Linked DNA regions of Homo sapiens: region 2 is linked to region 1. The links come from fine-mapping of genetic effects on gene expression. A gene starts in region 1. The other region holds a variant in brackets. All regions are shown on one strand. Distances are between the middles of the regions.

What was found.
Region 2: its variant is fine-mapped to the expression of NAA20 in whole blood (TOPMed, PIP 0.90).

What each region holds. Positions count from the first base shown.
Region 1 is chr20:20,009,191-20,026,486 of GRCh38, forward strand. NAA20 (N-alpha-acetyltransferase 20, NatB catalytic subunit) reads left to right here and starts at 8,172. Exons shown (of 6, transcript NM_016100.5): 1 at 8,172-8,259; 2 at 13,266-13,290; 3 at 16,487-16,577. The coding sequence starts at 8,207. RefSeq lists enhancers at 7,679-7,858, 8,473-8,973, 9,435-10,634 and silencers at 8,179-8,248, 8,299-8,418.
Region 2 is chr20:20,043,489-20,056,187 of GRCh38, forward strand. CRNKL1 (crooked neck pre-mRNA splicing factor 1) reads right to left here and starts at 8,978. Exons shown (of 14, transcript NM_001278628.2): 1 at 8,804-8,978; 2 at 6,982-7,134; 3 at 5,852-5,943; 4 at 4,855-5,013; 5 at 4,277-4,443; 6 at 1,820-1,998; 7 at 4-174. The coding sequence starts at 8,854. It overlaps CFAP61 (cilia and flagella associated protein 61), which reads left to right and starts at 9,044. Exons shown (of 27, transcript NM_015585.4): 1 at 9,044-9,103. RefSeq lists enhancers at 8,833-9,002, 9,013-9,312 and a silencer at 9,403-9,452. The variant C/T (reference allele first, on the strand shown) is at 6,866.

The DNA of each region.
Region 1 (17,296 bases):
AAGACTTGCAATGGAAGGCAGCAGCCCCTGAGCCTCCTCCCAATCCCATTTCTGTTATCTCCTCCCCTAAACTACGTCTCCAGCTGTGTATTCATTATTTATCTCCATACTTCTAAAAAGATGCTGATACTGCTGCTTATTGGTTTCTTTTTCTTTTCTTTCTTTCTTTTTTTTTTTTTTGGAGACAGAGTCTCACTCTGTCCCCCAGGCTGGAGTGCAGCGGCACGATCTCAGCTAACTGCAAACCACCTCCCAGGTTCAAGCAATTCTCCTGCCTCAGCCTCCTGAGTAGCTGGGATTACAGGCATGTGCCACCACACCCGGCTAATTTTTATATTTTTAGTAGAGAAGGGGTTTCACCATGTTGGCCAGGCTAGTCTTGAACTCCTGACCTGAAGTAATTCACCCACCTCTGCCTCCCAAAGTGCTGGGATTACAGGCGTGAGCTACCATGCCCGGCCTCTTTTTCAATATTAGACATTAATAATTGATTCCATATCATGGAAGGTGAGGATTGAACCTTCTTGTATGGTGGTCCTCTCCTTAGGGTGACCATGTAGCAGCCTGGTCATATGTCAATGCCTGTGGGGCTTTTCTCCTGGGTCAGGTGGTTTCCCCACAAGAAAATTCTCCAGTATCCTACGGGCGCCGGGTGCAAAGTGGGGTTAAATTTTGTTGCCAGCGTTCTAGGAGCTAAGCAGGCAAGGAGCCTGTGGGTTTTCAGCTTTCCGTCTGCCAGCTTTCACCTCCTCCCATTTCCAATGCAGTGTCTCAACGTCACTTTTCGCTGCCTGTGCTCTGACGGCTCAGGGACATGGCTTCTGGGTCTCTCCAGGAGTGAGGCGCTCATCTTCTCCCTTCACTCACACCTGCCAGAGCTCATTCCTGAGCCCGCTCAGACGCTGCATAGGGAATCGATTGCCTTGCTTCCTGCTGGCTTTTCCGCCTGACATTGGTTAACATCTAGCTTTCTCCTGTCTGCTGAGTTTTCAAGCCCGCAAAATTTTGTTACCAGTTCCCATTGGCTGCTGTCTCCTCTTCCATTCTTTTTGTTCCTATGGATGTATGCCCTTTTAAAAATTCCTTTTTAAATTTTCTTTAATTCTCATTTTAGTGAGGTATTGGTAGGGGAAAGATAGGTAATGCAGCCTGCCTTGTTTAATTGAAACCTGTAGTTTTAATAAGAAAAAAAATAAATAATAAAATAATAAAGAAAGAAACCTGTAGTTTTACATTTGAATGGTGAATGAACTTATACATCCTAGTTAGCAAAACTGAAAATAGATTATTACAATGATAGGCCAGAGTCAATGCATCTATCTTATCCAGTTATTATTTTATATAAAAAATTTCTTATATGAAGTCATCCAAACATCCAAGCTGTTTAATTGTAAAGTATGCTGCCTAGGATATATCAAAATATATATTTACTGTGCACTTTGTCCTTTCCATATAATCTGAAAGAAAAGAAACAGAGCAACAACAGATGAACCATCAAGCTGTTTGCTTGTTTTCAATGTGGAATTTTGCAATGATGGATGTGAATCTGGGTCAGCACTGTTTACAGAGAGCACATGGTGTTTTGTTTCAATGAGCAGGAAAATGTTTGCCATTAAATGTGGTAAAAGCTTGTAGTTTTTTCCAACTAAGCAGTAAAAGAAATTACTCTGTGTAGAATGATAAATAAAGAGTTCTATGAGTCATCTTTAATGTAGGGGAAAATGTGCAGCCGGGATAGAAACAGTGTTTTACTGCCGGCTAAAAATAAAATCAAATGCACTGAAACAGAAGTCAATAACAGCATGTCCTAGAAGCCCAAGTAACTGTGGGGTTTAACGTAGTTCATGCTTTTCAAATATACTTCTTAAAATGATGGTGACAAAAATGGAAAGACTATGCTGATCCTTCCTTCTTTCCTTCCTTCCTTCCTTCTGTCCCCTCCCCTCCCCTCCCACCATTATTTATCTCCATACTTCTAAAAATATGCTGATACTGCTGCTTATTGGTTTCTTTTCCTTTTTCTTTTCTTTTTTCTTTTTTTGAGACGGTGTCTCACTGTGTTGCCCAGGCTAGAGTGCAGTGGCACAATCTCAGCTTTCCTTCTCCCTTTCTCCCCTCCCCTCTCTTCCCTTCCCTTCCTTTCTTTTTTAAAAACACCATGCTGGAGTGCAGTGGTGCAATCATGGCTCACTGGAGCCTCAAACTCCTGGGTTCAAGGGATCCCCCTGGCCTTACCCTCCTAAGTAGCTGGGACTACAGACACATACCACCATGCCTGGCTATTTCTTCTTCTTTTCCTTCTCCTTCTCCTTCTTCTTCTTCTTCCTTTTTTTTTTTTTTTTTTTTGTTTTTGTTTTTTTGTAAAGATGGGGTCTCGCTTTGTTGCCCAGGCTGGTCTCCAACTCCTCAAGCAGTCCTCCCACCATAGCCTCCCAAAGTGCTGGTGATTCTTCTGTTTAAAGTCAGATTTATTAAGGTATAAGTTTGATAAAGTAAAATTGACTCATATTAGTACACATTTGATGTATTTTGACAGACTCATTTGGTCATGTAGCCACCACCATGATCAGTCCCAGCCTGGGCAAACATTGGTCTGTTTTCTTCTGTTCCTATAATTCTGCCCTTTCAGAATGTCATATAAATGGCTGGGCACATTCACTCATGCCTGTAATCCCAGCATTTTGGAAGACTGAGGTGGATGGATCACCTGAGGCCAGGAGTTTGAGACCAGCCTAGGCAATATGTCAAAACCCCATCTCTACTAAAAATATAAAAATTAGCCAGGTGTGGTGGTACACACCTATAGCCCCAGCTACTCGGGAGGCTGAGGCAGGAGAATCGCTTGAACCTGGGAGGTGGAGGTTGCAGTGAGCCGAGATGGTGCCACTTCACTCCAGCCTGGGCAACAGAGTGAGACCCTGTCTCAAAAAAAAAAAAAAAAAAAAAAAAAGAATGTCCATGTAAATGGAATCACAGGGTACACAGACTTTTGATTCCGGCTTAAATATTCATACAGATGTTTTGATAAAAACGTAACTTTTCGTTTCCCTGGGGTAAATGCCCAGGAATGCAATTGCTGGGTTAAGTGATAGTTGCATGTTTGCATGTTCAATTTGTAAAGAAACTACCAAACTGTTTTCCAGAGGGGCTGCACCATTTTATATTCCCATCAGCTATGTATGAGTGATTCTGTTTTGAAGTTTTTAGTACATTTCAGTGTTAAACTGCTGAAATTGTCAGATTCACTAGGTTTAAAACACATGCACTGTTAAAAATGTTTTATTTCTGAAAGTGTTATAATTATATTTCTAGAAATGTTATAATTAGACTCCAGCATAAATTAAGTCGCTGATACAAGGGGGAAAAAAACTCATGCTGGCCTTATTCTTCTCCCCCAGAAACTTTAAACACCAGAAAACAATGGAGTAATGATGTTTACAAAATCTTGGAGGAGAGAACATGGGATCCAGGAATATCCAGCCAATATTCCACTTGAGCATCCTAAGAGACAAGGGCGCTCTGTGAATAGAGCACCAGCACCATGAGCCCGAGGAAAAACAAAGCACAGCAAAGTCAAACAAACAAAAGCTCAGCAGAGAAACCCAGCCAACCCATACATGCATCAGAATGAAGAATGGAAAGGGAAAAGCTGTAAGAAGAAACAGGAATGACAATTACATCCACTCAATCATAGACTTAAAACCAAACAACTAGGTGATATATAGTTGAAAAACTGATGTGGCTTTATAGAGAATGGTGGCACACGCCTATAGTCCCAGCTACTCAGGAGCTGAGGCACGAGAATCGCTTGAACTTGGGAGGTGGAGGTTGCAGTGAGCTGAGATGGTGCCACTTCACTACAGCCTGGGCAACAGAGAGAGACCCTCTCTCAAAAAAAAAAAAAAAAAGAAAGAAAGAAAAAGAAAGAAAGAAAAAGACCAGTCACGGTGGCTCACGCCTGTAATCCCAGCACTCCGGGAGGCCAAGGCTGGTGGATCACAAGGTCAGGAGTTCAAGACCAGCTTGGCCAAGATGGTGAAACCCCGTCTCTACTAAAAATGCAAAAAAAGTAGCCAGGCATAGTGGCGGGCACCTGTAATCCCAGCTACTAAGGAGGCTGAGGCAGAGAATCGCTTGAACTCAGGAGGCGGAGGTTGCAGTGAGCTGGGATCACACCACTGCACTCCAGCCTGGGCGACAGAGCAAGACTCTGTCTCAAAAAAAAAAAAAGGCCTCGTGTGGTGGTGCACACCTATAGTTCCAGCTACTCAGGAGGCGGAGGCAGGAGAATCCCTTGAACCCAGGAGGCAGAGGTTCCACTGAGCTGAGATCTTGCCAGCGCTCCAGCCTGGGAGACAGAGCGAGACCCTGTCTCAAAAAAGCAAAAAAACAAAAAACAAAACAACACAAAAAAAGAGTAAATAGTGCCCTAAATTGAAATTTCTATTAAAAAATCTGATTTTGACCATTAATTATCCTCATTAGGAGATTGAAATTACATTTAATACATATATAAGATAATACTATACATATCTTAAACTTTACAGGAAACTTTTAGGAGCTTTTATTTTGTGCTGCTCAGCAATCTCTTTATTTTCATATTTATTTATTTATTTATTCTTTGTATTATTTTTTAATTTTTTGAGACAGAGTCTTGCTCTGTCACCCAGGCTAGAGTGCAGTGGTACAGTCTCGGCTCACTGCAACCTCTGCCTCCCGGGTTCAAGCGATTCTCCTGCCTCAGCCTGACAAGTAGCTGGGATTACAGGCGCCCGCCACCATGCCTGGCTAAATTTTTTTTGTATTTTTAGTAGAGATGGGATTTCACCATGTTGGCCAGGCTGGTCTCAAACTCCTGACCTTATGATCCACCCGCCTCGGCCTCCCAAAGCATTGGGATTACAGGTGTGAGCCACCGCGCCCAGCCTATTTATTTATTTATTTATTTATTGACATGGAGTCTCCCTCTGTCGCCCAGGCTGGAGTGCAGTGGTGCAATCTCAGCAAACTGCAACCTCTGCCTCCTGGGTTCAAGCGATTCTTCTGCCTCAGCCTTCCGAGTAGCTGAGATTACAGGTGCCCACCACCACGCCCGGCTAATTTTTGTATTTTTAGTAGAGATGGGGTTTCACCGTGTTGGCCAGGCTGGTCTCAAACTCCTGAACTCAGGTGAACCACCTGCCTCGGCCTCCCAAAGTGCTGGGATTACAGGCGTGACTCACCGCGCCTGGCACTCTTTCATTTTCATTTGATTTGTTTTTCTTCTGTTAAATTCAAGAAAAAAGTCAAGTACAGTAATACCTTATACTTCATAATCTATTAACATATATAATTAGAATCCCTTTTAAGTAAAAGTCTCTTTCTCACTCCCCTTAATCTACATAGAGAGATGACTGAAATTATCTGAGAGTTAACATGGTTTATTCCCAGGTGGCAAAATTTTCAATGATTTGTTGCTTTATTCTTTGTACATTTCCACAAGTCTTTGATTTCTTAATAATGTGCATATATCCTTTTTATTAAAAAGTCTTTAAGAATGTAAATAGCCCTAAAAGGTATTTTTAAAACCCATAAAACAAGTGTGTCAACATGTAGACTTTTCTGGTTGAAGCAAGACAATAAGAGGAAAGGGAGGCGGCTTCCAAAGCCCCACCCATCTCCTCTAAGCTGCTCATCGGGGACTATGAGCAAACATCACCCCTCCAGAGCCATTTGTGCTAAGGTCTATGATTGAGGGCTGTGCCTCTCCTAACTCTACATCTCCAGATTCTGATCCTTCAAAATGCAAGATACTTAATTTCATTATTTTTCTTAACAAACACTTATATGGCACTTAAAATGTGGCAAGCACTGTTATAACTGCTTTACAAATATTAACTCATGTAATCTTCATAATAATCCAATGAAGTAGGTGCTATGATTATGCACCTTTTACAGAAACTGAGGCAAAGAGAGGTGAAATACCTTTGTTGAGAATGTGAATACCCTCTTTGTAAACTACCAAGGATGACATTATCTTCTGGGTAACCTGTGTGCCACTTTTTCACTCAGCTATTTAATCAATATTTGCTAGGCACTTACTGGCCACCCTTCGAGATGCTAATTCATAGGAGGCAATCAGCAATGGAAACTGATAACAGTTTAAAAATAAGTAGACAAACAGGAGAGAAGGGAGAACCAGCTGGTGAATATCCAGGATATTCTCTGTACTGCCCTGCACGTTCCCCTGACCCCATGTGTTGGAATGGCCACGTAGCTATAGGATATTTCTGATCTGTGCCTCAAAATCGGAATAATAATTCGTATCGGTGCTTGCAAACTGCTGGCCTACAGCATCCAGTTTCTGCAGGGTTCCAATGCTACCTTTGTGTTAAACCCACAGTGTTTTTTTCTAAAAATCAAAATCATGTTTATTCCACCATTACCTAGATACAAACATAAAGTAGCTATAAACTTCTAATGTTTATAATACCAATGAATCAGAGCCAAAAATATTATAAAAACCTTCACTACTTCATAAGGAACAAAATTCAAATCAACATTAGTTCATGTCACACACAAAAAATTATGAAACACTTTGAAATGGCCAGAAAAAGATTACTGTTTAGTACACGTTTCCAGGTTTTCTCTGCTTTTTATTGTCTTTGACAATACAAAATTTTACAAATTTGTAAGCTGAGGAAAATTGATAGTAATGAAAATTTTTCTTGTCCATAAAATACAAATGCATAGTGTTATACAGTGCCCAGGAGAGACAGTGATTACAGCTCTGTGGATATTGACCAGTTTAACACTCATGTGTAAATACATTTCAGCATTCCTGCTTGCTTTATGTATTTTATCTCTCTTTATCTTATCTTTTTGAGACAGGGTCTTGGTGTGTCACCCAGGCTGGAGTGCAGTGGTGCAATCATGTCTCAGAGCAACCTCTACCTCCCGGGCTCAAATGATCCTCCCACCTCAGCCTCCCAAGTAGCTGGGATTACAGGTGTGAGCCACTGTGTCTGGTCTGAATAAAGGAATTTTTAACTTTTAATTTTAACTACTTTAAATTTAAAAACTGATGTTTGGTTCAGCGATTTGAAAACAGTATATTTGGAACCGCTTGGATATGAGAATCTGCTTTTTAACCATACATTGATGAAATCTAAATAGAGAACAAGCATTTCCGATGACAGCTGCTCTCTCAGATTGAAATGCACTGCAAATGTAAAATACACACCGGATTTCAAAGTCTTTGCAAAAAAGAATGTAACATATCACATTCCTTTTTTTATTGATTGATTACATGTTGAGTATTGATTGGTTACATGTTGAAATGATATTTCGGGTATAATAAAGTGGGGTCAGGGAAAAATATTTTTCCCAAATAGGAAAAATAAATGGGTAAAATAAAGCGTACTATCAAAATCAATTTTACATTTCGTTTTGCTTTTATTTATTTATTATTTATTTTTGAGACCAAGTCTAGCTCTGTCGCCCAGGCTGGAGTGCAGTGGCGAGATCTCGGCTCACTGCAACCTCCGCCTCCTGGGTTCAAGCGATTCTCCTGCCTCAGCCTCCAAGTAGCTGGGATTAGAGGCGCGTGCCACCACGCCCAGCTAATTTTTATTTCTTTCCTTTTTTTTTTTTTTTTAGTAGAGAGGGGGTTTCGCCATGTTGGCCAGGTTGGTCTCGAACTGCTGAACTCAAGTGATCTGCCCGCCTTGGCCTCCCAGTGTTGGGATTACAGGCGTGAGCCACCGCGCCCGGCCTTCTTTTTGTTTTTAAACGTGGTATTGACATTTTAAGATGACATCTGCAACTCGCAACACTGGGACAAGGGATTCTGGGTCATAAATTCTCCCATTCCTCATTTACTCTGCAGCACCGGGTGGCTGCGAACTCCGCTCTTCTGCTTGGGTTTCCGCATCACCAGCAGCTTCTTTCCTTCCCAGGTGTCGCCGCCTGCTTTCTGCAGCCGCTGCCTGGGAGGGGTTCCGAGGTTCTGGGCAGCCACAGCCCCGGAGGCCTTACAGGAGCGACCTGGCAATTCCCGCCGCCGGCCGCCAGAGGAAGCTGCTTTGCTGCTGTCGTTGCCCAGCAACTCGTAGCCCGGAAGCAGTACCCCGTCTCGCTCGGTTCCGCGGCGGCCACGCTCCGGGAGACTTCCGGCAGGGCGGGCGCGGGGTCTTGGCGAACGGTCTTCGGAAGCGGCGGCGGCGCGATGACCACGCTACGGGCCTTTACCTGCGACGACCTGTTCCGCTTCAACAACATGTGAGTGACACGCGCCTAGGGCCAGCCGCTCTTGGCCGGGCCTCGCTTCCCGGCCCCGCCAGCTCCGGCCCCAGCCGCGCCTTCCCGGCCGGACCCCAAGCCCGGACGGGGACCCGCGAGAACCACCCCCCGCCGGCCAACGTGGGCGCCTCCCTGGGGCCACAGGGTCCAGGGAGAGGTGGGCCTGGAGTCGACGCACGCCGGCCTTGGCGACCTTGGCCGAGGTGCTCAAACTTTGTCTCTGGACCCTGCGAGCTGGCAGGTTCTGGGGCAGCGCTCGGGCCTCCGCTCGTGGTCGCTGTCAGGAGGCGCTGGGGTGATGGGGCGAGCTGGAGACGCGGCCTGGAGCCCACGACCTGGGCTTCTCGCCCTGCCCTACTGCTTGCTGGTTCGTGGCCGGGCCGCGCCTCTTCTGGGCAGAGGGCACCGCCGACGGCCAGGCCGCAGAGGGGGCTTGCGAGGATCGGAAGCTGGTCAGCAGCTGTTGGGATGTGTACATCGTGAAGCCCACCTGGTGGCCGTGGTTAAATTGTATCCAAATGAAATGACACTGATCACTGCGTCCCCTGCAGCAGATGCTGTCTCAGTCATGGTTAGTGTTTGCAAGTTTAGTTACTGTAGCTGCGCACCCCGGTGTACACACCTTTCCTCTGTGAGGAGTCACGGCAGATCTTAGGGGAGGCTCGCTGTGCCCAGAGCCCTGGATGCAGTTTCTTTGGATTCGAGTTAAGGCCAGACCTCTGATTTGCAGGTACCAATTTTTTTTTTTTAAGAAAACATTTTATTATGAAGATTCCCACACATTTAGAAAAGTTGGAGGAATTTCACCATGTGCTTTTATAGACACTTTTCCTGGATTCTGCAGTTAACATTTTGCTACGCTGGTATCTCTCCTTCCTTCCCATCTATCAGTCCTGGATCCACTTTAAAAAAACAACAGGGCGGTATGTGAAAACTAAGGACAAAGTGGTTCCGATTCAAGTGTCAGGAAGATGGAAAGAACTATGGGATAAGATGGCTGGGAACATTTCAAAGAGGGGGTGAGCCTTGAAGATGGATAACACATTGGTAAGTGAGGAAGACGGAAGTTCCGGAGAAGGAGCGGGGCATGAAAATGGGGAAACTTGAAGTGCGGTCAGACAACTGGGATCAGTGCGAATCTAGTGGCTGGTTTCTGCCACTGAGCAGTCAGGAAGAAATGGGTGAAACAGGAGGGGTTTAGACTTGATCCTGTGGAAAGAATTTTCTGTTGGGCCAGTCTGGTAGCTACGGTGACTTGTGTTGAACTCACTGTTCCCTGCATTGTTCTGAGTGCCCACGTAATAATCCAGTTAATCCTCACGATTCTTTGAGGTGCTGTCACCCCCATTTTGTGTATGAGTAAACCAAGGCATGGCAAGCACAAGTGAATTGGCCCAGGTGAGAATGAGTAAAGCGAGGAACTTCATCCAAGGATATTGGCTCTGGAGCAGTGGTTCTGAAAGACTTGGTGCCTGTGGTCAGGGGACCATGTTAGAAACGCACATTCCGTTTGCGATCCACTGCTCTGGAGTGGGTCTTAACCCACCTGGAGCCTCTGGAGAGGCTCACCCTCTCTTTAAAGTGTTCCCAGCCATCTCATCCCATAGTCCTTTCTATCCTCCTGACCCTTGAATCGGAACCACTTGGTTTTTCGTTTTCACTTACTGCCCTGTTGTTTTTAAAAGTGGATCTAGGATTGATAGGTGGGCAGAGAGAAATGATGAAGCCAGTGTAGCAAAGTGTTCACTGTAGAATCCAGGTGATGGATTCAAATTCTTAACCACTGAGCTCTGTGGGCTGTCATGTGATGACAGCAGGTAAACTGGGCAGGTAAGCCATTCAGGAGGCCTTGGCAGTGGCCCAGAGACGATGACTTGACAGAGGCTTCAGTTTGGGAGGTGCAGCATGGGAGGTGACAGGGTGCCTTGAAGCTTCAAGAAAAGGCAGAGCCTCATGGAGAATCAGTTTTAACTGAAGATCTAGGAAAGGACAACAGTTTTACATGGAAATGAATAGAAAGAAAATACACAGGAACACTTGCAAGAAAATATTAGATTTCAGAGAATCATGTGGCCTCTTCAGAAGGTGCCAGTAGGGGAACTCCACTTATTCCCCATTTTCTTTTATTTTTTGAGACAGGGTCTCGCTCTGTTGCCCAGACAGGAGTGCAGTGGCACAATCCTAGGTCGCTTTAGTCTCAAGCTCCCAGGCCCAGGCAATCCTCCTGCCTCAGCCTCCCGAGTAGTTGGGACTACAGGCACGTGCTGCCACACCCCACTAATTTTTAAATTTTTTTGTGGAGACAGGGTCTTGTTTTGTTACCCGGGCTGGTCTGGAACTCCCAGGCTCAAGTGATTCTCCCACCTAATCCTTCCAAAGTGCTGGAATTACAAGTGTGAGCCACCACACCTGGTTCCCATTTTTTTGTATTTACTTGCCTCTTTGATTAGGGCATTTTGGTAGAAAACTCTGAGAATGACTCAGATTAGATGATGCAGTTGGAATTGAAATAATCCATGGATGTAGAACACTGCAATTAATTTAACACATATTTTATTCTTGGAAAAATATTTGAGTGCCTACTGTGTGCCAGTTCTAGAGACACAGCAGTGAACAAGACATAAACAAAAAGGTGTCTTTATAGAATGTAGATTTTCCCCTCTAAACACCTTAATGTATCATAAAGTAGCTGTGACTTCATAGAACACCTGAAACAATTTTGGGGACCCCCTCAAATCCTGGCCCACACCTTGGGAATCACAGTGCGGGGAGTCATGTGGAACTTAGTGTTCAGTTACAAAGGAAAATAGAAGCAGGGAAGGAAAGCTGGAAGTGAGTGGGGATTCAGCTTTAGTTTGGGGGTTCAGGGAGACTGCCCTTGAAGAAAGACCTGGGGAAGTTAGGAATGAGTTACATGAACACTGGGGGCCAGGGGAGCTTCCAGATAGAGGGAACAGTAAGTGAAGACACCCCTGTTTCAAATAGGAGGCAGGCCGCATGGCTGGTACAGAGTGAGCATGGGAGGGTAAGGGGATAACAGCAGAGAGTTAGAAGGGCAGGGCCTGGAGAGGCCATCATAAGACCTGAACTTCTCTGCCAAGTGCACCAAGAAACCCAGGTGGAGGGGCCAGGAAGGCATCTGGGCATGGGCGTCTCAAGATTAGGTCTGAGCTAAAGATGGAAATTTGGGGGTCAGCACAAGTGTAGAAAAAAAGGCTAAGAGTTTGTAAGATGGCGCCTTAGGGCATCAAGTGTTCAAGTAAAGGAGACCGTGTGGCTCAGTGAGGTGAGAGGAGAACCCCATGGTCTCAGAAGCTGAGTGAAGACAGCATTTCAGGCTGTCCCAGGAGTGGGAAGCTGTTCAAGAGGAGCTGATGGCTCAGTGCACATCATATTTGTACATTTCTTCCAGGAAAGAGAAATTGAAGATGCAGATGCAGGAGGGAAAGAGAATTGCAGGAGGAGGGTCCCGAGTACTGAGGGGGTCTCTCGCCCGCACTCCGTGCCTATTGACAGGAGAGCAAGTAGCATATGGGTGCAGATGCCTGTGTGCGTGGGTTCGGTGGGCGGGGGGGGGGGGGGACTTTGGCAAAGACTTCTTCCTGTTTTCTCTTCTTAGTGATGAAATAGGAAGCCCCTGAGATGGCGGGGCTGGAGGTGAGGGTGCGGGTGGGCAGACAAGAGGAGATAAAGCAGTTCAGTCGTCGAAAGGTGTGGTGGAGTGACTCCCTGCACTGTATTAGAGCAGTGATTCTCAAGGAGTGGGCCAGGGTTTGGGGTCCCCAAGATTGTTTCAGGTGTTGTGTGAGGTTAGAGCTATCTTCATGATGTATTAAGAAGGTTTTTCATCTTTTCCACTGTCATTCCCTCACAAGTAGACAGTGGAGCTTCCCAAGGTGTGATCTTTCAGCAGCAAGCATAACAAATGCTTGAGAATCCCGTTGTCTTTTAAGCAGGACGTTGCAGAATTGTTAAAACAATGCCATTGTTGTCACTGGATTTTGTTTTGTTTTGTTTTCGGAAGTATAGTGATTTTTTTGGTAAAGGTATTTGTGTTAACGTGTAATTGATTTATTATTTTTGAGTGAATATTTAAAATTTTTAAATCTCAGTAGATATTACGCGTATAAACAAAAGTTCTTTGGAGTCTTCAGTAACTTTTTAGCGTAAAGGAGTTCTGAAACCAAACAGTTTAAGAACTGCTGGACTACAGAAATATGATATGACTAGCATTGTTATGGGTCTCAAAGGAGAATTTGACTAGAAATCAGAAGAGAACAGTTGAAAAGTAGCTGGTTTTGAACCTGACAAAATAGTGGCTCCATTAATTGACTAGGGAAGTGAGGGGATGGAGATGGGTTTTCAGAATGCAGATTTGGGAATGGTGTGCTGGGATGTGCTGGTGAGCTGCCCACAGCATCGGAGCCAGGTTGGGAGGCATCCACTAAGAACACGTGATTGAACACATAGGAATGGGGATGGTGGGGACAGGGAGGTGGGAGTGTAGAATAGGAGTGGGGAGCAAAAACCGAGTGGTGGGAGTGACCACATTTAGAGGGTGGAATAAAGGAGCAATTGTCAGGGAAGACCCAGACACAGGCGGGGAGGATCCATGGGGTTGGATGCTGCAGCGGGCGAGTTTGACCTTCTGTCTCTGCGAGATACATCCCTAGTTGGTCTCCAGTTCCATTAGCAATTTATTGCCACTTAGAAAACACAAGATGTAGATTTATTAACTTGAATTTTAAAGAAGCAAGTAGCAGTTAAGTGAAAAAATATGTAAACACCTTAATAGTGGCTGTGACAGCTTATTATGGCTATTAGGTAGATTAAATCATCTGCCTCAGCCCTAAAGTTGGCCTTAAAGTTGTTGATGAAACATGTTTTGTTTTCCTTGTGGCATATTACTGTTAGCTTTAGCAGGCTTATTTCAACTGGTTATTGTAAACGCTGCTTACTAGAGACATTTCTCTTGTTTCTTTCAGTAACTTGGATCCACTTACAGAAACTGTATCCTTTTTTACAAAAAAAAAAAAGTTGAATGAAGATTTACTGAGAATAAAGAAAACAGAAATGAAAGGAAAACAGAGGAGTACTGAAAAGTTTAAAAACTTGTAGGTCAGGAAACATCATAAGCAACACTGAAAGCAATTTTAAAAAGTGAAACTGAGAACAAGAGTTGTCTTAGATCTGCTGACAAACTGTTAATATCATGACTTGGTAGAAATCTGTAACATCATAGCTCCCCTGCCAACCTTGCCCCTCAGGAGTCAGCATGGCTGTATTCACCAGAAAGCACAGTGACTTCAGCAAGGTGGCTGCATAGTCTCCAGTGTGAACAAAGTCTGGAGATAAGCAGTCCCAGGCAGGTGATGCTTCCATGAAGACACCAACAGCCAGGCTCTTTGCAGTTTAAGCACTCTACCCCTCCCAGGGTGGCCGTAACCTTGTTCCAGATGTTGCCACAGCAAACAGCATCACAGCCATGTTTCCGGCAGCAGAAACAGCAGAGGGGGAGGTGAGGGTGTTCTTCCCTTTTAAGAGTACCTTTGGGCCTGTACTCCCAGCACTTTGGGGGGCCAAGGCAGGCAGATCACGAGGTCAGGCGTTCAAGACCAGCCTGGCCAACATGGTGAAACCCCGTCCGTCTCTAGTAAAAATACAAGAACTAGCCAGCCGTGGTGGCTCACTCCGTAATCCCAGCTACTTAGGAGGCTGAGGCAGGAGAATCGCTTGAACCAGGACCCGGGAGGCAGAGGTTGCAGTGAGCCGAGGTTGCAGTGAGCCGAGATCGCGCCACTGCACTCCAGCCTGGGCTACATGTAGAGCGAGACTCCGTCTCAAAAAAAAAAAAAAAAGGAGAGTACCTTTGGGAAATGCCACACAGGCCCGCTCTGTCTCATTGACCAGCACCTGTTTCATGCTTCACCTGTCTACTGAATCCTATCTAGAGTCCAGAAATGTGCCCTGCTTTATAAATTGGGACTTGTTACTAAAGTGAAGGCTTTGAGGTAACAATGAACAGTGTCTATTATTGTCCTAATGGAAAAATGGGGCAAAGATGTGAAGATAGGATACTGTGGTTATGCTGCTGTAACAGATAACCCCACATCTCTAGTGGCTTACAACACAAAGTTCGGATTCTGTGTTATGCTCTGTATCTACTGTAGGTGGGTAGGAGGGTTCTGCTAACCGGTAATTTATCAAAAGAGGGCATATAGGAGCTTAATGAACGTGTTAAGAGTTCAGTCTCATCAGTCAAAAGACATGTAAACTAAAACCAAAATGAGATGCCATATTTTATGTATCAGCCAAGATTTTAAAAAATGATAAACCTCAGTGCTGATGATGGTGAGGTGAGAGGAACATTCTCATAAATTGCTAGTGACAATATAAATTGCTATTATCTTTCCAGAAGGCACTTTGGAAATAGTAATTCCATTTCCTGAAAGCTGAAAATAAGAAGAAATAGAGGCAGTTTGTCAGTGGTTGACAAAATAAGGCCCATAGGCCAAATCTGGCCCACTGCCTGTTTTTGTAAATAAAATGTTATTGGGACACCACGCTGATTAATTTATATTTTTTTCTGTGGCTTTTGCAGTTTGAGTAGTTCAGCAGGGACTGTATGGCCCACAAAGCCTAGGATGTTAACTATTTGGCCTTTTACAGAAAAAGTTTGCTAACCCCTGAGTTATACCATTACAAACATTATTTATTGCAGGAGAGTTACTAAGCATTTGGAATAAGATTCACACACAACAATCAGGAGATGGTTAAGTAAATTAAGCTGTACTGAAGAAGGATTTCAAACATTTTTTTGAGAAACAGGAAATGACCCAGGTGTCCATTGTCAGGATACAGGCTATTTAAGGTGTCTCTTCACATAAAGAAATACTATACAGCAGTAAAAATTAACTTACAGGTGCAGGCAGCAACAGGACTACATATCAGAAACAAAACTGAATGGGAAAAGCAAAAAATCTCTGCAGGTTCATCTGGATTTTTTAAATTACGACTAATGATATCACCACTTTTAAGATTTTTGAAGAATTTTGAATGACAAAAGTTTCACTATATAGGAAGGAAGGATTTTAGGATGCAAATCCGTTTATATGGTGTGCTTCCAGTGACATTTAAAATTTGCAGTGAAAGTCCCATAATCCAGGTGAGCCTATATTTGAAAGTAACCTGTTAGGTCCTAGAGGTCGATGGGAGGGAGGGGTGTCTGGGACTCCTCTGTTAGCCACAGAAGAGATGGTTGTGGTATATGTCAGTGGCTGGCTGGCAGGAAGACTGGCTGTCCTGCCATGTTAAGGGTTGTATTTGAGGGGTATTCAAAATAATGATGGTCCTTCAGAGGAGATTTTGAAGAATTTCGCACGGAACAGGTTTTCCAGGAACTTAAAAAATATATTTATGTGTGATTGATGGTGTCCTCTGATAAATTGCATCAGAAAGTTTATACTAACAAGAAATATATTTTCATCCATTAAAGTACAGAGTAAAAAGAAGAAGAGAAATGTAGGAATGATTACATGTCAGTAAGGATATCCCAAGGTTGAAGAGTGAAGTCATGAGCAAATTATTCAGGCATTTACTGTTAACATAGTTGATTCCTTAAGTCAGCTTTTATCTGCATTACTAGAAATGCAGGATTTGAATCAGTGGAGAGGAAAAACTGGGTAATTAAGTTGGCTCTGGAAGGACTTAGGTTGTAAAGTTATTTTCACAGTCTCATAGCTGAAGTCAAAGTAGGAACTACCCATTAATTTTTCAGTGCAATTATGTAAGCATCAGTGTATTAAGCATCTACTGTGTACCAGGCACCAGGGACAGAGGGAACATGATATTCATAGACTAAGAGGAGGCAGACCGCAAACAAACAATATCAGGTGATAAATGGAGAGACTTAGATATGGTATGGTCAGTAGGGAAGTAGACTGTAGAACTTTGGGGTCCTGATTCTCTGCTTTCTATTAGACAGTGCTATCACCATTCCACACTTGAGGCTATATGTCCAGGCAATTTTGTTAAAAATCAGTGATAACCTAAATATTTCATGTAATGGTATGTATGATTATAGGACTCATACAGAGCTGGGGATAAAGTAACAGTATACTTTTTAAAGGAAACTTTTTTTACAATATCCCTTAATGAAGAACTTTTTACTGTCCATTACTTTTCACACTCCTTAACAGGACTCTAGTATGGGATTCCTTTCTACCTACAATACCTCGCCCACTGGCCAGAGTATTTCATTGTTGCAGAGGCACCTGGTGGAGAATTAATGGGTTATAGTAAGTATAATACCACTAGTATTTTGTGGAGTAGGTAAAGATTTTAATATAGATTTCAACTGATTGCTTTAGACTGCAGAATTGGAATATAATGATGCTTGTAATTTTATTTCCTCTTCAACAATTCAAGAACTTACTGATCTCTGTTTTGGGCACTGTGCTAGGCCCAGGCGATAACGGCAGTGAACCAGACAGACATGGTCTTAGTCTTCTTAAATCTTTCATTCTAAAAAAAAAAAAAATCTTTCATTCTAAGGCCAGGTACAGTGGCTCACGCCTGTAATCCCAACACTTTGGAAGGCCAAGGCAGGCAGATCCTTTGAGGTCAGGAGTTCAAGATCGGCCTGGCCAAATGGTGAAAGCCTGCCTCTACTAAAAATACAAAAAATTAGCTGGGCGTGGTATCGCGTGCCTATAATCCCAGCTACTCAGGAAGCTGAGGCGGGAGAATCACTTGAACCCCGGAGGCAGAACTTGCAGTGGGCTGAGATCATGCCACTGCACTCCAGCCTGGGTGACACAGTGAGACTCTGTCTCAAAAAAAAAAAAAAAATCTTTCATTCTATACTTTTGTTAAATTTCTACATGGTTTATTTAGTACATAATGCAGGCATCATAGCATCCTCATTGAATTAGCATTACTAACAGAACCTTTAGCTCTGAACTATATGTGTACATCCACATGTACCCACATATACCCACACCCATATGAAATGCAG
Region 2 (12,699 bases), 32 kb after region 1:
CACCTTCACTTCTTCTTCGTACTGGAATCTCCGTTTGCTCACAATGATATCTTCAATACCCCGCCTATCACCAAACTTCTTCTCAAAGATGGTATAATTTTTAAAGAGTTCTTGGGCATCTTGTTTTGAAATTCTGTCCAGGGCATACTTGTAAATCACTCGTACCCTTTCAAACTAAATGCAGACAGGATGATTACCTTCTATAACACAATATTCTCATGCCAGTCACAACTAGGAGAGTAAATATAACAAAATATTACTTATAAGTTAGATTTTGAGGCCTCATAATATCCAGAGTAAGATGCTTTTCTCCCTCTTGTTGAAGGTTATCTCTGTCAGGATGGACCGGTACTCTGCTTTGAGCTCCATATTTAATACTGTCTACCTAACACTGCCAACTGGATGTCTACTGCACATCTCAAACAGGTCCAAAACTGAGCTTCTGTTTCCTCCCCACTCAAACTGGGACTCTCCCCATCTTCCCAATTTTAGTAGGCAAGGCCTAACCTACAGTCACTTGCTCAAGCCAAAACCTTCAGGTGATCCTCAATTCCTCTTTTTTCCTCATACTCCATATTCACTCTTGCAACATGCCCTACCATTTCAATCTCTTCCACACAGCCATTTGCTTCTCCCCAGCCCCCAGCCATCAAACTCCACTGTTCACCTGGCCCACTTCAAAAGTCTCCCCACTGGTCTCCCCTGGTTCCACTTTTGCCATCTACCCTCATACATTCTCCATGAATTAGCCAGAGGCTCTCCTTAAAATATAAATCATATCCAATCACTGTCCCGCTTAAAACCTTTCAATGCTTCCCACTGGCCCGAACAGAATCTGAACTCCCTAGCATGGTCCGTGCAAGACCTTATATAGGTTGAGTATCTCTTGTCTGAAGCATTTGGTATCAGAAGTGTTTTGGATTTGGGATGTTTCCCCAGTTTGGGAATATTTGCATTATACTTACTGGTTCAGCATCCCTAATCCAAAAACCCGAAGTCTGAAATGTTCCAATGAACATTTCCTTCGAGTGTCATGTCAGCACTCAACAAGTTTCACATTTTGAGTTTTGGATTTTCAGACTGGGAATGCTCAAACCTGTATTTGGATGGATCTCAATTCTGTATTATTTGAACTCCCTTTTTTTTTAAGAAATGGGGTCCTGCTCTGTCACCCAGGCTAGAGTGCAATGGCACGAACATAGCTCATTGTAGTCTCAAACTCCTAGGCTCAAGTGATACTCCTGCCTCAGCTTCCCAAGTAGCTGGGACTGTAGGTGTGCACCACTATGCCCACTCAATTTTTTTTTTTAGAGACAGGGTCTCACTATGTTGCCCAGGCTGGTCTCAAACTCCTGGCCTCAAGTGATCCTTCTGCCTCATCTTCTCAATATTTGAGCTATTTTCATAGGTACAAGGGAAAAAAAGAACTCTCTTATTTGTAGGGCAATCTCTGTTTCCATTCTAAATGTTTTCTGTTCTAGGGCTTTAAGCTTTTTGTTTCCCATATTTATTATCGGTTAAGTCCTTTACTTAGGATGCCAAAAGACTAGTTCTCAGTTTACGGGCATTCAGACTAAAAGGCTTAATTTTCAAACAAAGCACAATAAAATTAAGACAGTTATAATACAATCTATAATCAGCTCCCATCTGTAGCTTAGTCACATATATATGCTGTTCTCTGTGAGAAGCTGTGTTTTTGTATTTTGAAAACATCTTTCCAGGGATATGTCAGTAAGAAAAAATGGAAATGAACTCACCATGCACAAAATGTAATCTTTGCTAAGCTGTTTTACAGTATAATGAAGTTAGGTATACTTACCTCTTTCTGATTTTCTTCAAACTTGGCAAAGGCAACATAAAGGTGCTCATCCATATGTTCATCTCCAAAGAATTCCACAGCTCTCTCATACACTTTCCGTGCATGGGCAAAATAAGCATGTTTTTCTTCAAAGCGGGCATACTTGATCCAGTTCTTAACATCAGGGTGCACGAGGACAAGTGCAAGGGAATTAAGGAAATCCCAGGCAAAACAGCATGGCTTAAAAAAATAGTAAGTAAGTAAACACCAAAACCATACCAAAGCCTGGAAACTCCAAAAATTCAAACTACAACTCTAGGGGAACAAAACACATACAAAAGTGTAGAATTAAACAGTGGCTTCTGTGAGAGCAGGGCCACGCCTGTTCATCTCTATTTTCCTCCAGTGCTTAGTTAAGATTTTAGTGGTGGGTATAAACTCGAGTTGGAAGCAAAGAAAAATCTCAACCCAGGTTACCAACCATGTGATCTTGGATAAGTCACTGAACTTAGACGTCTAAGTCTCAGCTGTTTCATTTGTAAACAGGGAAAAATAATGCCAGCCTCACTGGATTACTGCCAGCTTTAAATGAGAAAATGTATGTAAAGCCCTTAGCACAGTTTCTAGCCAAAAGAACATGGCACCGTAAGCGGTCAATAATGGTCTGGTCATTAAATAGCACCAATTATATTAAAATATGAATACTTGAACTAATAATTAAGAAAAAAACATGCTATAAAAAGAAAACTGTTAACTAGAGTCAAAGCAGAAAGTTTTGAATTGTCATTTTAATCTATCTTCCTTGAATAAATCATTAATTTCCAAAGTAGTAATATATTCCAATATGGCAAAGAAGAGCATCAGTTCTGAAGCTGCTCTACTAGGTTCACATTCTATTTCCATCAGCACCTGTGAGAACCCAGTCAAGCTACTTAATCTCTCATGCCTCAGCTCCCTCATCTGTAGGACAGAGAAGTTCCTACACTGCAAGGATGTTATGAGGATTAAACAACAATATCTGTAAAGTACTTAGAATACTGCCTGGCACGTAGCAAGTGCTATAAAAGCTTTCGTCAAACTAATAATATTAAAATTAGTAGACATAATTAAGATCTTAACATTGTCACCTCAACAGAGAAGAGTAAAAAAATAAAAAGATCTTAATACTGCATAATAAAGTTGACTCTCATTATTTCTGGTAGTTATGTTCTATTTAGTCAATGCGAACACTTAATTATTGAGTACTGAACCACTGCTCCTAGGAGAAACGTGTATATATACAATCTCACATTCATCATCATCTTAAATCCTAAAAAGAACTCATCCTGGCAGATTCTATCTTCATTATTTTGTAAGAAAAGTGGTTCAGAAATGTTAAGTGACTGGACTGAGGCTGCCCCACTGACAGGGATTCAAACTCCCCGACTGGCCCCAGAGCCACAGCTCCTTGCACTACATGGCACTGGCCCTTCCTGTCTCCAAGCTCTAGGCATGGTTATATGAGGTTAAGACCAGAAGGCAAGCCTCACCTTGTTGGACTTCATGCTCTGTGCATGTCCACAAATGACTGTGAAAGTGCCACAATTACTGATTTTGGGGGTTACAAATAAATTTTAGCAAATACGTGATTTTGCAAACATGGAATCTGCAAATAGTGAGGAATGACTGTACTTCAGTTTCTAAAAGTGCTTTCATGTGTATCATTTAATCTTCGCAACAGCCCAACAAAGGTGTTTTTATTCTTGTTTTTAAGAAGAGGACACCAACTCTCAAAGGAGTTAAATGACTCTCTGGAGCCACACAGCTAGTAAACAGTAAACCTTGGATGAACTCCAGTAAGGTAGTAATGACCAACACAAACCTTAGAAAAACAGGACTGGCAATGGCAGCCAGGACCTTAGTACAGTTAGTCCTCCAGCCATGGGTTCCATATCTGTGGATTCAACCAACCTGAGATAAAGTATTCGTGAGAAAAAAGTGCTTCTGTATTGAACATGTCGTTTTTTTGCTTATTATTCCTTAAAATATACAGAATAACAATTATTTATATAACATTTACATTGCATTAGGTATAAGTAATCTAGAGATTATTTGAATTATATGGGAGGCTATGCATAGGTTACATGCAAATACTACATCATTTTATATGAGGGACTTAAGCATCACCGATTTTGGTATCCCCTTGAGTTCCTGGAAACAATCCCCCAGGAATATCATTTTCCACAAGGAAACATTAGCTTTTAGCATTACAATAAAATAAACCCAAACTCTCACTAGAAAAGACTAGTTACCCAGAATACAAATTTTCATTCTGACCAATCTCTTTCCCTACAAAACATAGGGAAGCTGATAAACTGGCATTCTTGACTTTGAGCCTGACATTAATGACTGTGTGTCCTGATCATGAGACATCTCTACAGGAGCAGCAGCAGCATCCAGGACAATCATGGCACCATACAGATCTCGTCCAAAGGATATATCGCTCATAAATGGTGCGGGCCCGATCCACCTCTTTGTATCTCAGCTCAAAGTTGATGTAGGAGTGCCAGGCTTGCTCCTCAGGCTGCCACTCCATCCAGCGCTCAAACACCTGCCGGGCACCGGCAACGTTTCCCAACATTTCCTCCATGTACGTGTACTTGTACCTGTAACAAAATCACCCGAAAATATCTGCTGTGGTTTAGTTCTTCCATTGTTGAATGGGAAGAAGATTGAAGATTTTACCTTTCTTAAAGGTTAAATCAAACATGTTTTGTCATTTGTATGTAAATCTGAAAAAGGATGAACCATTGGAAAAAAAGATTTTTTTTTCTTAAAAGTTGCCTAGTTCAACAAGAAGCTTATGAATAAAAGATTGCAATCAAAATTTTAGTTTTGATTACATAGCTATAGAACATTACGATTATGACTTAATAGACTATGGGACATAACAGCATTTATGTCTGAAGAAAAAGTAGGATATCAAATTAAACTATCATCATGTAAATAAAATAAATACAGAAGATGTGGAACTTTGCTAGTCTATAAAAGGCTGTTTTGTTAGATCAGAAACTTACCAGAACTGATTAACTCGAGGCAGCGTTGTTATGGCCCGGTCCCAGATATTTCGAGCATGGTTGACTTGGCGATTCTTCATTTCCATTTCTGCGTATTTCAGCCAGAGTGTAATATTTCGGTAGTCTACATCTAAAGCACGCTCGTATATGGATCGAGCCCTTAAGAAGCAAGATTTGCAGGGCATCAAAAATAGAGCATTCAACACATGTAGCAGTTATTTCAAACTATCTGGAATGCACTGATGTTTTATTAGGTGTCTACCATGAGCCAAGTTCTGGGCATAAAAAAATGAAAAGATATAATGCTCTCAAGTACCTTACAAAGTCTTATAAAAAGACATGCATGCAATTATAATGCAATGTGATTTATGTTATAGTCAAGATCTGCACGGGAAACAGAGAGGAAGAAATGAAAATGTTTGGTGGAAAAGGCTAAGTAGTAGGTAATTGTAGAAATGAGAACTTGAGGAACGTTCCGATTTACCAGGAAACTAAGTTTGGTGAGGAGGGGGTGCTCATTCCAGGCAAGGAGAACAGTCAAGCCTCACGATAAGGAGACATGATATATTCAGGGAGTGGCACATACACAGGCACAGTGGGGGAAGGAGGTATGCGGGGAGAATGCAGAAAGCTAGACCACAGGAAGGGCCAGATTGCAATTTTTATTTTTTTTGGCCATTGGTTTTATTTTTTTTGGCCATTGTTTAGCTGAAATTTGTAAAAATCTCAATATATACAAAGCAAATGAAATTGTGCTTCTTTAGCTACAACTGACAAGATCTATCTCTAAAGCCTCTTCTGCCACCCTCCCCAGGACTATTCTACCCCAGTACTCCTGAGGCCCTCAAGGGAACCCTAGGGTTCCATGGAACCAAAGTTGAAAATTTCTACCCGAGGCACAATCTTTTACCTGTGCTTTAACTTTTTCTTCTTTTCTTTTTGGTATCTGTTAATCTATGAATCATTATATACAAAACTACACTCTCAGTAATTTTACCTTTGAATCTCCTTTAGGCTTTCTTCCCATTGTGCGTATTTTATCCAGTTACTAATCACAGTCCTGTTTTTTCTTATATTATCTTCAAAAGTCTGGAAGAAGGCAAAAAGGGTCAAGTCAAAAGACAAATGACTAAAAATGACAGCACCCTTGGTCTATTTTAAGTCTTGTACTAAAATGGTTATTCATTTTGTTCATATTTAAGAGAAATTACATCCTGGAATCCTTGAGGAATAAGAAACCCACTACAGAAGGTTACAGTCAACTAACTGATACTTTAAAATGGTCTATGCTTGTCCCTAATAAAAAATGTTTTTGACTATTACCTTTAAGTCCTCTGGTAATTCTCAGAATTTCATATATAACAGCATTAGTGCTTTAAAACAGTCCCACATTCTAGAGTGAAGAGGTCAAATCAGATCCCAAAGTCTTCTCATGGTCCTTTTGCAGACCTCAATTCCTTTTCCTTTCTTTCTTTCTTTCTTTTTTTTTTTTTGAGACAAAGTCTTGCTCTGTCGCCCAGGCTGGAGTGCAGTGGCACGATCTCGGCTCACTGCAGCCTCTGCCTCCCGAGTTGCTGTGATTCTCATGTCTCAGCCTCCCGAATAGCTGGGATTACAGGCACCTGCCACCACGCCTGGCTAATTTTTGTATTTTAGTAGAGATGGGGTTTCACCATGTTGGCTAGGCTGGTCTCAAACTCCTGACCTCAGGTGATCTGCCCGCCTCGGCCTCCCAAAGTGTTGGGATTACAGGCGCGAGCCACTGTGCCCAGCCAGATCTCAATTCTTAACACAGAAGGTGGTATAGACAGAAGTACACAGTGCAGCCTTACTAAGCATACCCTCCTTCTTGTTGTCAGTTGTTCCATCTGCTAAACTTCCGCTCACTTTGATTCAGCATCAAAAATTATGCAGATTCAATTTCTTTACACTTTAACCAGACAACTCATGGCATATTTTATATAGTTCAGAAAAATGCTGTTATCTGGTAACCAGAAGTACATTATTCATG[C/T]GTCTGGAAACACTTAACCTCATCTTGCCCTACAGAATCCAACCAATGAGGAGCTTTTCAAACTGACCGATACAGTCTTAACAATTAGTGGACTGAAAGATACCACACTGACTGACCTTCCTTTTCCTTAGTTTATAATCATTTAATTCTTCTTCATCTGTGATCTTCTGTTGAGGTGGAGGTGGAAGAAGCTCAAGTTCTCTTTCTTTAGCCTCTCTTAAGAGTTGTTCAGCAGTTATCTGTACCTCAGCCGGGGCTTTGTTTTTCACCTTTTAAGAAAGAAGACATTTCTATTTTTAGTAGTTGCTCTTCACACAAGGCTTAAGAAACAAACATACATTTTTTAGGATATGAACTTTGTTAGTATTATCACAAGATGCCCTTTTTGTATGACATGTTCCCATTCCTCCATGAGACTGAAAAGAAAAAAAAAATACCGTTTTCTCTCTTATTCATAGTATCTACTGCAAAGCCATAGGTAAAAGTCTCAAGAGAAAAAGGTGGCAAAAATAATAGCAAGTTTTCCCTTTTAGATGAGTATAATAATAAACTTTGAGGCCGTCTAGGTAAAATTCTGACCAGAGGTTTTGTTTTATCAAAATGTGTAGCACATCTTATTAACAGCATTACAACCTGCATTTACAGAATTCTTCAACTTATTTAATGCCCCGGTGTATAACTGGGTTTGGTTTTACATGGCACTTCAAGTCAAAGGCAATTTCAGTAAGTTCTCATCATTAGACTGTAAGCTTCTTGAGGTCTTAGAAGCTTACAGTCTAACGTAGCTTAGAGCTGTGCTGTCCAACACAGTAGCTATGAGTCACATGTGGTGAGTACAAATTGAGGTGGACTGTAAGTGTAAAATACACATTGGTTTTGAAGATGAAGTATAAAAAAGAATAAACTACCTCATTACATTTTTTATACCGATTACATGTTGAAATGATAATATTTTGGATACATTAGCTCAAATAAAATATATATTATCAAAATTAATTTCACTTTTTTGCTTTGTTTTTACTTTTTAATGTAGATATGAGAAAATTTAAAATTTCATATGTGGTGTGCATTATATTTCCATTGGACCAGTGATGCCCAATAAAAGTTTATGTAGCTGAATTATAAAAAATGTTACTTAATGCCACATGTGGAGTAATGATGATAATGGTGATAGCTCATATTTAATAAGCACTAAGTGCCAGACACAGTGTTACTTGCTCTATATGCATTACTCCTGCGAGTCAGACAAATAGTTATGTAAAGGTCCAGTTCAAGAGAGTCATCCGGGCTCAAGAAAGACTGGAGGGAGGGTATCTGTAAAGGCTTCAAAGTCTGCCACATATTAAGCACTTGGTAAGTATTAGCTATCAAAGGAAATACCAGATAGTAAGTCTACTGTTTAATTAACTTATGATACTATACTACTCCTACCGTCTACTCTCGCCCTCCGCTGTCAGCTGGGCTAACTCCTATTCAGCCTTCAAGTCTCAGCTTAAAGGTCATTTCCTCAGCAAAATTTACTTTCAGGACCCCTTCATACGACCCCCTTATTCACGCCCATGGCATATTCTACTTTGCCTCTCGGTAACATCTAGCAAGGTCGTCTTTATACAGAAACTCGTGTTTTGAGTACTGCTTGTGGCCAGCGTACGAGCGTAGCTTCCCAGCGCCCAGTGCAGTGCCTGGCTCAGTAAATCTTCACCGAACCACCCCACTCCACTCCCCAGCAAAACCACCCCAGAACGAAGGCCACGCCAACGCGGGTCGTGCTCCGCGATGACAAGAGCCCGCGCCCCACCACCAGCTGCCCTTCCTCTCCATCTCTCAGGGTGAGCCTTCTCCCCGGCGGGAACACTCTCTCCCAACCCGGGCACCCTCAGGGCTGAGGGATGCCCCTTTCCTAGGCCACCTCCTACAAGGCCCCTCGCGATCGCCTACCTTGGCCACTTTGGGAATCCGCTGCTTCCCGGCCGCGGTGGAGGCCGCCATGTCTGCAGCAGTCGACCTCTGGACACCTGTCCCCGGCACGGACGCTAGAAATCGGCTCTGAGAGCTCACCGAAACCACAAAGCTTTCAGAAAACAAACAGGATCTCGGAACCGGAAGCGGAACTTGCAGGACTGACCTTTGACCTCTCGCTTGAGCCGTGACGGAGGCGGCACCGTTTCCATGGTGACCAGGCTGCGCGTCCTCCTTGCGGCAGCGCGTGGAGTGCGGCGTCCTGGAGCTGCGGATGAGGTGGGTAACGCCGTGCTGACTAGCAGCGACGCAAGGACTGCGGTGCAGGGCGTCCAGGGCGCATCCCCAGGTCAGCCTCCGGAACTGGGATGACCAGGCGAGGACGAGTGGCTCTGTCGAGCCGTGGCGCCCTGCAAGGGAGTAAGAACGGAGCTCCAATCTGGATGCTCGAGGGCGGGGGAAGAAGGGAGAGCGAGGAAACTACCATTCCCAGCATGCGACGGGGCGAGCTGCCGCCCTTTTAGGCTGCAATGCCTCGAGCATTGCATTCTAGTAGTCTCTGGGTCCACGCCCCCTCGTTTCTGGTTTCGGGACAGTTGTGCCCAAATAATTCTAAGGTGCCCAAATAATTAACTCTAAGGCTTGGAATTAAAAATAACAGAAGGTACTTTGAAGCCAGATATTAGGAAAAAATATAAATAGAGTAACTGGAAAACAACTCAGTCTTGTGATAAGAAACATGTTTAAATTCTGTGTGTGCCTTAATTACTCTAGTTAAATTTTCTTAGCCTCAATGTCCTCAACTATAAAACAAGGCTAATAACATCTGTTTCACTAGGATTAAAGACAAATGCTCAGTAGATGTTAGCTGTTATAATACTTAACCTGCCCTCAAAAACTGAAAAGCAAAGGTTAAGAGAATTTTTTTTAATAGACATTTTTAGAGAAGTTTTAGGTTCACAACAAAATTAAGTGGAAGACACAGAGATTTCCTCCCTCCACAGCTTCCTGCTATCAATTATTGTACCTCTTCCCTCCTCTAACAGCCTCCAACTCTTAAAAATATCCTCCACCAGAGCAGTACATTTGTTACAATCTTGAACCTACATTGACACATCATTATCACCCAAAGTTCATAGTTTATATTAGGGTTCACTCTTGGTGTACATTCTATGAGGTTGGACAAATGTATAATGACATGACTTGGCAGCTCATTTGTTAGGATAATTTCCACAGTTGCAAAGCTCTTTTGGTGTTTGGGGAAAATATATATTTATGTATGTAGTAATATCACGTCTACCAATGCAGATATTACTTTCAACAAAAGATTTATGCAGATTTCTAGAACTGCAGTCAGTTATAACCAACATCAATGTATTTGCCATAACTCTTTATTAACCATATTATTTAGATATTTTATCTCACTTTTCAAAATTTAAATAGAGAAGATTTTATATCACTTTCATAAAGCCACCTAACAAAATAAATAAATATTAAAAAGATGTTTCTTTGAAGTGATTTTCCTTAAATGTGTTACTGTAAACAATTGATTTACCAAATGAATCATTGGTTTAATCATCTGTTGCCTTTGCTCAAAAGTACAAACATGCTAGAATACTTTGCTTCTGATCACCATCCTTCTCTCTTACATTTCTGTTGTCTGGCAATTCAGTTCATCTCTGTGTGTGTTTTTTTTGTTTGTTTTTTTTTTTTTTTTTTTTTAGGAAAAATGTATTATCCTTCTTACTTTTTGCCATCAATGCTTTTGTAGATATACCTTCATGTTTACCTTCTTATTTCCCAGCATTTAATCTTGTATTCCACTTCTTTCTGATTTTATTCTTCTCAGAATATACCATCTCCTAGTTCTTTCTACAAGATTCTTTGAATTCTTTCAGTCTTTGTATGAAATTGTCTTTATTTTATCTTCATTTTAAAGTGATTGTTTAGGTTTATCAGTCTAGGTTAATGGTTATTTTTTCCTTTTATATTTTTAAAACACTATTCTAGTAGTTAGAAAACTATGGGCCGTAGACTAAATTCAGCCCATTGACTATTTTGTATGGACTGTGAATGAGCTAGGGATATATATATATATATATACACACACACATACATACACATATACACACACACATTTTACATTAAACTTTATATGTAGTTTACATTTTAAACATTTTTTAAAAATTACATGGCACATGAAAATTATACATAAGTCAACTTTCAGTGTATGTAAGTAAAATTTTGTGGGAATACATTCATGCTCATTTGTGCCGATATTGTCTCTGGTTGTTACTGTGCTACAATGGCAGAGTTGACTAGTTGTGTAGACAACATGTGGCTCATAAAGCTTAATGTATTTATTCTCTGGCCTTTTACAGAAGTTTGCTAACCCCCGTGCTACTGGCTTCTAATGTTGCTCATGAGAAATATTCTGTCAGTCTAATTATTTTTTATAGACAGTCTGTCTTTTGTCAGGTTCCTTTAAAGTTTTCTGTTTGTCTTTAGGGTTTTGTAGTTTTACTATATATTTGGAGTTTATTTGTATTTTTTGCTCTGAACTGAAGGTTCATGTCTTTCATCCATGCTAAAAGTAATTAGCCATTATTTTCAAATGTTTCATTTATTCCTTTTGGAATTCCCATAAGACAGATGTTTTTCATTCTGTCTTACATGTGTCTTTACTGAATTCTGTATTTTCTGTTTCTATGTGCTTCTTTCTAGATAATTTGTTCATAAGTATCTTCCAGTTTATTTTCTTTATTCTTCTGTTTTTAACCCATCCTCTTAGTTTAAATTTTAATAACCACGTATTTCATTTTTTAAGTTTCTGTTCTTTTTTAAATAATGACCTGTTCTCTTCTCATGACTTTTGTTTCTCTTTCTATATTTCTTTATTATAAACATACTTAGTTTGTAGTCTGTTTCAGAGTCTATCATCTAAAGTTCTTGGTGACTCCCATAATACACAGATTGTGTGGACTAGAATGCCATACCCACTTTAGTCTAGAATTTGGACTTCTCAGCAGTATTTTTGCTTTATTTTCTACCTAGAGCTTTGTGTAGAGAAAGCTTGTCACTTTCTTGGGCTGGTGAGTTTAATTTTTCTAGCCCCCTCACTTACCGAGGGGCCCATCCAAAGTCCCAGGTAGATGCATGGTTTAATTTTTAATTCTCTGTTTGGAGTGAGGTCCATTCTATCCCCAAAACCTGTGTCAGATCGGCTCACATCATTGCCACCTGGTTGGAGAATTTCCCTCGCTCGCTTTCTTTCTTCTTTTCTTGTTTTCTTTTTACCAAAGTCAGTTATCTAATTAATTATACTTCCTTATTTTATTCAGAATTTTTATATACTTGTAGCATTAGTTTATGATATGTTTCACAAACAAGATGTCTCATTCCAATTTTGCTTTCAATTTAAAACCAGAACAAGGAATGACAATATTTATGGTTAGCTTCGATAGGAGTCTAGACATTATTAATTTCTCCTTCATTGTTTTCCCTGTTTTGAGCTCACTGGCTAGTATATAATAAAATGGCTTTCCCTATGAAGGAAAGAAGGGAGGGAAAGAGAGAAGAGAGACTTACAGAAATTGAGACAATGAGAGAGAAATTGAAATCATTTTGTGACCTACTGTTTTTGTCAACAGCATTTCCCAAAGTGTCCTTCTGGAACGTTAGGTTCTCCACTGTTGCCGTCATTAGAGATTCTCTTCCCAAAGAGTGTCGGAAAGGCTGGGTTATACAAAGAAAACAAGTTGCTTTATTATGGAACCTCTCAAAGATGTTAATGGGCCTGGTGGCCCTTCAGGAAGCCTATTGCGAGCATTTCCTACACTTAACCACAGAACTTTTTTGGTCTCAAAATATGTCTC